2 linked regions of the Homo sapiens genome follow. The protein of the gene in region 2 purifies or fractionates together with the protein of the main gene of each other region. This does not show direct contact. Each region holds a gene or a part of one and is shown on either strand. Other genes may lie near its edges.

Region 1 (3,654 bases), on a different chromosome or scaffold from region 2:
ACAAAATTTTAAGAACTCATCAGTATAAGGATGCTTTTGTCATTCTTTGAGAAATGCAGCTCAATATTATATTTAGTTTATTTGGAATAGCTATGTCCTTAACTGACAGTCAATATTCAAACATCACCAAATTATTAAATTTTTTTAATTAAAAAATTTTTTAAAATTATATTTGCATATATGAAGGTAAGTAAGACACTGGACAAATTATAGAGTCTCAGGCTTATGTGGAATTATGACTGCTCTCAACAATTACTGAAATCCCCTTTCAAAGAAAATCTTCACATAAACCTATGTTTGACTATGTAATAGAATGAAGACAGCCACAGATCTGGCATTCTCAAAACATCACACAAGTACTGCATGTAATGCTGCAAAATAACTGTTTTCCTCTAAAATTTCACTAAACAACCTCAGGCAGTACAATAAAACAAAACATTAAGACCTCCCAGTGGTCATCCTAAGAATTAGACAGATTTCTTTGATTTTTTCTTCTCTGCTTCTTCCTTTTCCTTTTCTATTTCAGTTACATATAATTCAACTTCTTTTGCACTAAACATCTGAAAAGAGAAAAAAATTTAAAGATCAAATGTCAGTTATACGAATAATATGTAAATACAATATGAAGAATTCCAATATTTAATAAATTTATACTTTCTATGTACAACTTTATATTTTGTAACTTCAAATATACAATGAAGCATTTCAAGAGGTCTAAGAGCAATAACAATTATGGGCAAAACCAGATCTCTGACATTTCTACTATCACTGTGCTAAAAAAGAAAGCAGGACAAAAGGTGATATTGCGTTATATATCCTATATGTGCATATAACTCCAAAAACATTTTAATGCGAGGCTTAATTTTATTCATGAACAAAGACTCATTATTTAACTCTCCCAACTGCACCCTACTGTGTGATTCTCTGATAGGGTTTAATAATTTGATCAGTTTATAGAATAGCGAAATGAAATGGGAAAAGATAATTTATGCTACTTTATGTCTAAGTAGAAAGCAAAAAAGGTTTTATTTTTCTAAGAATTTGCAGTGTAGTTTGATTTTCTGTTGTACTGTTCACAAGTAGATCCAAGGTTACATGCTTGCGGCTATAAGACAGCAATTATTGGCCAAACCTGGTGACTCAGGCCTGTAATCCCAGCACTTTGGGAGGCCGAGGTGGGTGGATCAGTTGAGGTCAGGGGTTCGAGACCAGGCTGCCATTTTCTTTTTCTTTTTTTTTCAGACAGGGTCTCACCCTGTCGCCCAGGCTGGACTGCAGTGATGTGATTGCAACCTCTGCTGCCGGGTTCAAGCGATTCTCCCACCTCAGTCTCCTCAGTAGCTGGGACTACAGGTGTGTGCTACCACGCCTGACTGATTTTTGTTATTTTTAGTAGAGAGATTTGCATTTTCAGTACAGACAGGGTTTTGCCATGTTGGCCAGGCTGGTCTTGAACTCCTGACCTCAAGTGATCTGCCCGCCTCAGCCTCCCAAAGTGCTGGGATTACAGGCCTGAGCCACCGTGCCTGGCCAAGACAGCAATTATTAACTTCAGTGAAGTTAATACATTTATATACAAAAATCTAAATATAATGATCTTAATACTGAAAAGAGGTATCTATTAAATTGATAAATGAATGATCAACTTTATGGAAAGGCAAATTTTCAAAGATATTAGAGATGTAAAGGATTTTAGCTATTAGTCCATCACTAGAATTTACATATAAGAAAACATAGATTCACAAAGCTAAATTATATTTGGCCAAAGATTAAAGAAGGATTAAAGATTAGGTCTCTGATTCTTATTTCAACTCCAGAACTCTTTCCATTTCACCTATAAAGATGTGTGTCACAAAATCTGTATTTGTCAATAATCTACATAAAATATATTATTTGAACGTTTTATGAAATGAATTTACCCATCAAGCAATTACTAGGAGTTCCATGGGCTCTGAAAGTGGAAGAATATAATTCTTACCTGCTATTAAGGAGTCCACAGTTTAGTGGAAAAAAACTGGCATATAAATAGATCATTACAATACAAACCTGAATAAAGTGATGTGGTATTACTTGGGGAAGAAATAATTTCCTCCTTTGAAAAAGTGTCTTTCACTTTCTTTTTCCTTTTTGAGACCGGGTCTTGCTCTGCTGCCTACAGCTGAAGCACAGCGGCATGATCACAGCTCACTGCAACCTCTGCCTCCTGGGCTCAAGCCATCCTACCGCCTCAGCAACCGGAGTAGCTGGGGCTACAGATGTGAACCACCATGCCCAGCTAACTTTTGTATTTTTTGTAGAGACGGGGTTTCGCCATGTTGCCCAGGCTGGTCTCAAACTCCTGGGCTCAATCGATTTGCCTGTCTCGGCCTCCCAAAATGCTGGGATTACAGGCATGAGCCACTGCGCCCAGCCTCAAGAAGCCTTTTCAAAAAATTATTTTTAATTTTTATGAGTACATAGTAGGTATATATATTATGGGGTACATGAGATATTTTGATACAGGCATGTGATGCATAATAACCACATCATGGAGAATGGGGTATCCATCCCCTCAAGCATTTATCCTTTGTGTTACAAAAAATCCAATTATACTCTTTTAGTTATCTTAAAATGTACAATTAAATTGTTATTGACTATAGTTACCCTGTTGTGTTATCAAATACTAGGTCTTATAAATTCTATTTTTTTGTACCTATTAACCATCCCCACCTGCCCCTGCCCCCCACTACCCTTCCCAGCCTCTAGTAACCATCCTTCTACTCTGTATCTCCATGAGTTCAATTGTTTTGATTTTTAGATTCCACAAATGAGTAAAAACATGCAATGTCTGTCTTTCCATGCCTGCCTTATTTAACATAATGATCTCCAGTTCCATCCATGTTATTACAAATGACAGTATCTCATTATTTTTTTGGGGGCAGAACAGTACTTCATTGTGTGTAAGTATCACATTGTCTTCGTACATTCATCTGTTGATGGACCCTAAGGTTGCTTCCAAATCTTGGCTATTGTGAACAGTTCTGCAATTAACATGGGAGTGCAGCTATTTCTTCAATATACTGATTTCCTTTCTTTTGGGTATACACCCAGTAGTGGGATTGCTGGACCATATGTACTTTTATTTTATGTTTTTTGAGGAATCTCCAAACTATTCTTCATGGTGGTTGTACTAATTTACATTCCCACCAACAGTGTATGAGGGTTCCCTTTTCTCCATATCCTCACCAGCATTTGCTGTAGCTTGTCTATTAGATATAAGCCATTTTAACTGGGGTGAGATGATATTTTATTGTAGTTTTGATTTGCATTTCTCTGATGATCAATGATGTTGATCACCTTTTTTTTGGAGATGGGGTCTTGCTCTGTTGCCCAGGATGGAGTACAGTGGCACAATCATGGCTCACTGCAGCCTTGACCTCCCAGGTTCAAGTGATCCTCCCACCTCAGCTTCCCAAGTAGCTGGGACCACAGGAGCACACCACCACATCAGGCTAATTTTTAAATTATTATATTTGTAGAGACAAGGTCTCACTGTGTTGTCCAGGCTGGTCTGAAACTCCTAGGCTCAAGTGATCCTCCCGCCTTGGCCTCCCAAAGTGCTGGGATTACAAGCAAGAGCTCAGCCCAAGCACCTTTTTATATGCCTGTTTGCCA
Region 2 (3,654 bases):
TCTAGAAGGATGTACATCAAAAGGCTTATAGTGAATGCCTTCTCAATGAACATGTATGTTTTATGGAATTTTAAAATAATTCCAATTTTTATTTTAGATTCAGGGGCACTTGTGCAAGTTTATGAGATAGTTATATTGTGTAATGCAGAGGTTTGGGGTACAACTGATCCCATCACCCAGGTAGCGAGAGCATAGTACTCAATAGTTTTTCACCTCTTCCCCCTCTACTAGTTTCCAGTGTCTACTGTTGCTATCTTTATGACCATGAGTATTTATGACATTTAAAAATATTGAGAATATATGTATGTATAATTTTTGATCTTCTAATTTCATTTTGGAGAATATTTTCTAAGGAAATGATCAGAAATTCAGATATATTTAAGTACAAGTTCTGTTACTAAGTGATAAAGGAGGATAAGCTCTCAATGATGTTAAAATGTATAATTATAGTAACATCTGGAAACAATTTATTAAAACAATAATAGTCATTATTCAATATTGAGAATATGATTAATAGTTATTTTCTTACACATACTTTTCTGTGCTTCCAAATTGGGCATGTATACTTTTTGAATCTGAAAAAAAAGTTAGAAAAAAGGCAATATTTGAAAAATACTTACACTGGAAGCCGCCATGGTATATATTAATTTTATATTTTTTTGTATTGGTAATATTCTTTCAAGTTACATAATAAAAAATGTATAAGATGAATATTTGTTATATTCCTATTGTCTGATTTTGTAATTCATTTGCTCTGGTTTCTCTTTTTTTTGTAATTCAGGATGATGTGACACCTGTTTTCTAAGTGTTAAAGGAGCAAAAAAACCTCTCTTTAGCCCTTATTCTAGTTCTTTGAATGCTTACTCCAAAAGAATTTTTTTGACCAAAATCTTAGAAATGTAATGAGAAAGAAAGGCTGATATTGGAGTGTTACAGAGTGTATAATAGAAATGCAATAGCAATACACAATCCAGCCATGTCACATTTGCTCCTTCCCTAGTAATGGTTCAAAAACAAGTTTAATATAAAAATTCATGAATATTGATATTCGAGCATAATAGTCCTTGAATGGAGGTAGTGGGAGTGATATGAGATGGAAATACTTTTCTTGATGTAAGCTTGTTTTCTCCAGGAAGAGAAAGATTCGTTTCTCTTTAAATAATTATGTTCTTTTTTTTATTATCTCTATCAATTTGTTTATCATTCTGAGTTGCTAATTACAAATATATTTTTTTCTATAGCTGGAAGCCAACATGTGATGTTTTTCGTAAACATGAAGATTATATGCAGGACCAATTTACTGTTTATCAAGGAACTGTTGAAAAAGACAAGTATAGTACTTATATGAAGTTTATCAATTCTATAAGTTTGTATTATTAGGACATGGTGTGTAAGAATGTCAGTTGAAAAATGTAGACATTTTGTACTCAAGGAGTTTCTTTTTTTTTTTTTGAGATGGAGTCTCGCTCTGTCCCCCAGGCTGGAGTGCAGTGGCATGATCTTGGCTCACTGCAAGCTCTGCCTCCCGGGTTCACGCCATTCTTTTGCCTCAGCCTCCCAAGTAGCTGGGACTACAGGCGCCCGCCACCGCACCCGGCTAATTTTGTGTATTTTTAGTAGAGACGGGGTTTCACCATGTTAGCCAGGATGGTCTCGATCTCCTGACCTCGTGATCTGCCCGCCTCGGCCTTCCAAAGTGCTGGGATTACAGGCATGACCCACCATGCCCAGCCAGGAGTTTTTGTTTTTAAGTAAATGTAGTGTTTTGGACTCCTTGGGTGCAGTGGAACATCTACCTACTTGTTGTAAAGCTCTCTCTAATCCTAGATATATTTAGATATGGCCTTAGATATAAACTGTTTCTCAGTGGCAATTATTATAGCAGAGTCCATCAATTAATGGTCTTTATGAGTGAACTGTTTAGGCAAACATCTCGGGGAATAGTTACCTGTAGAATTAGCTTATAACAAATTTGGGATATTGATTTCTGAATGGTATTTTATATCAAACTTCTGTTTTTTAGACAGCTGATTTAATGGAGTGGTTATATTCTAATAGAGAAACACCAATAATTGTATGAATTTATTTTATTATATGTATAATCACATTGTCTTGGGGATTAAATATAATTAGTGAATGTAATGAAACAAGACAAGAGACTTTGAACACATTATATAGCATAAAAATTTCACCTAATATAAGACATTGAAATGTTTTTATTTTTAATATAATTGGATGAGAACAGTATCTATTTTTATATTGTAACTAAAACGTGCAAAATCTAGAATGCAATACTCTATATATTCAAAGACAAGTCTTAAGAAAAGGTAGGGACTAAAGTTATAGATATAGACTTCATTTTGAAATCATGGAAATACATGAGATTGCCCATGGAAATGTATGGAGCAAAAAGAGGAGAAAGCTGGAGTACGCCATCATCTAGAGGGTAGGCAGAGGGTGGGATCAGTGAAGGAGACTTGTCTTGTCATTTATACATCCTGCTTCATTTAAAAAAGAATTTTAGATGATTTGACTAAATAATCATCTTGAAAGGATAGTGTTTAAAGAAACTAGATTAAAAATCAAGGCTGCAGGGAAGTAAGGAAAATATAGGAAGTTGAAGCCTTTGATGAAGTTAGAAATTCATACTATGTATCCCGCACATTTGTTAGATATAGGCACGAATTAAGCTTTCAAATTCCTAGTAGTCAAGGCATTGTGGAAATATAATCAGTGTGGGATTCATAATATTCATTTAAAAAAACAGGTCAATTGCTTAGGATAAGTAGAGGCTTTTCCTGAGGTTTGAGAGAAATTTCTCCTCTGGGTCCTCTAAAGGGGAAATTGTGCAGTGTGCTTCAGTGACCTCCCCCAGCCCCAAACACAGTATATATAACTGCTTCTTATAGCATCTGTCAATGTAAGTCATGACTATAAAACATTAATTCTTAAAAATGATTCTGTGAGAGGCTAAAGCAAACCAGTTAAAATATGTACTTCTCTAACAGTGTTTGTTATAGAGGACTTCTGTGAGCTAACTGAAGGTATTAAAGTGAAAACAGTTGTCTGTTTCTTTCTTAAACCAGCTACATAGCTTAATTGAATTGATGCTTCAATACCAGGCATTTATAAATGGAAAATAACTCATTTGTTGGTTTCATGGATAATGGAGGAAGTAGAGGCACCAATTACTTGTTTCTCCTAATCTCCCATCCCTGTTCAAGTCATTCATGAAAAACAGTATTGCTGGCTTAGATGAGATAATAATGGCTCTTGTTTAACTATGACTTAGCTATGCTAGGCTCTGCCAGAGTTTCTATATGGAGTATGTTAGAAGAGTGAGCATGAATATACAGTATGAATAGGGTGGATGTGGCATAGTCATCTCACCTGGAACTGGTGACCCAGGCTTAATTTTCTTATAGGTATTTCTTCCCTGGACCATTTTTCCCAAGCGATTAAATAGTAAGTGGGTCTTAATTAGCAAATATGCGTTTAGAGGAATAGGAGCTTGTTTGGGGCTCAACTGCTTTTCCTTGCTAAAGGGGACAGTTTAGTAATATTCAGAAATTAAAACTTTCTTAAGATTCAGACCCGCTGACTAGCACAGGGCTGTTATCCTTACTTTTCTTCTCATGTGTGCAGTTTTTGAAA

What was found. The genes of interacting proteins can lie anywhere in the genome.
Region 1: the proteins of C14orf39 (region 2) and PSMA8 purify together in Homo sapiens (affinity purification with western blotting, with the first as the bait; one study listed by BioGRID). This does not show direct contact.

What each region holds. Positions count from the first base shown.
Region 1 is NC_000018.10:26,189,225-26,192,878, reverse strand, and holds part of PSMA8 (proteasome subunit alpha-type 8), read right to left. Parts: intron 561-3,654; coding exon 468-560; 3' UTR 1-467. UniProt on the Homo sapiens protein: Component of the spermatoproteasome, a proteasome specifically found in testis that promotes acetylation-dependent degradation of histones, thereby participating actively to the exchange of histones during spermatogenesis.
Region 2 is NC_000014.9:60,475,977-60,479,630, reverse strand, and holds part of C14orf39 (protein SIX6OS1), read left to right. Parts: intron 1-1,241; coding exon 1,242-1,331; exon of another isoform or gene 1,332-1,336; intron 1,337-3,654. UniProt on the Homo sapiens protein: Meiotic protein that localizes to the central element of the synaptonemal complex and is required for chromosome synapsis during meiotic recombination. Required for the appropriate processing of intermediate recombination nodules before crossover formation.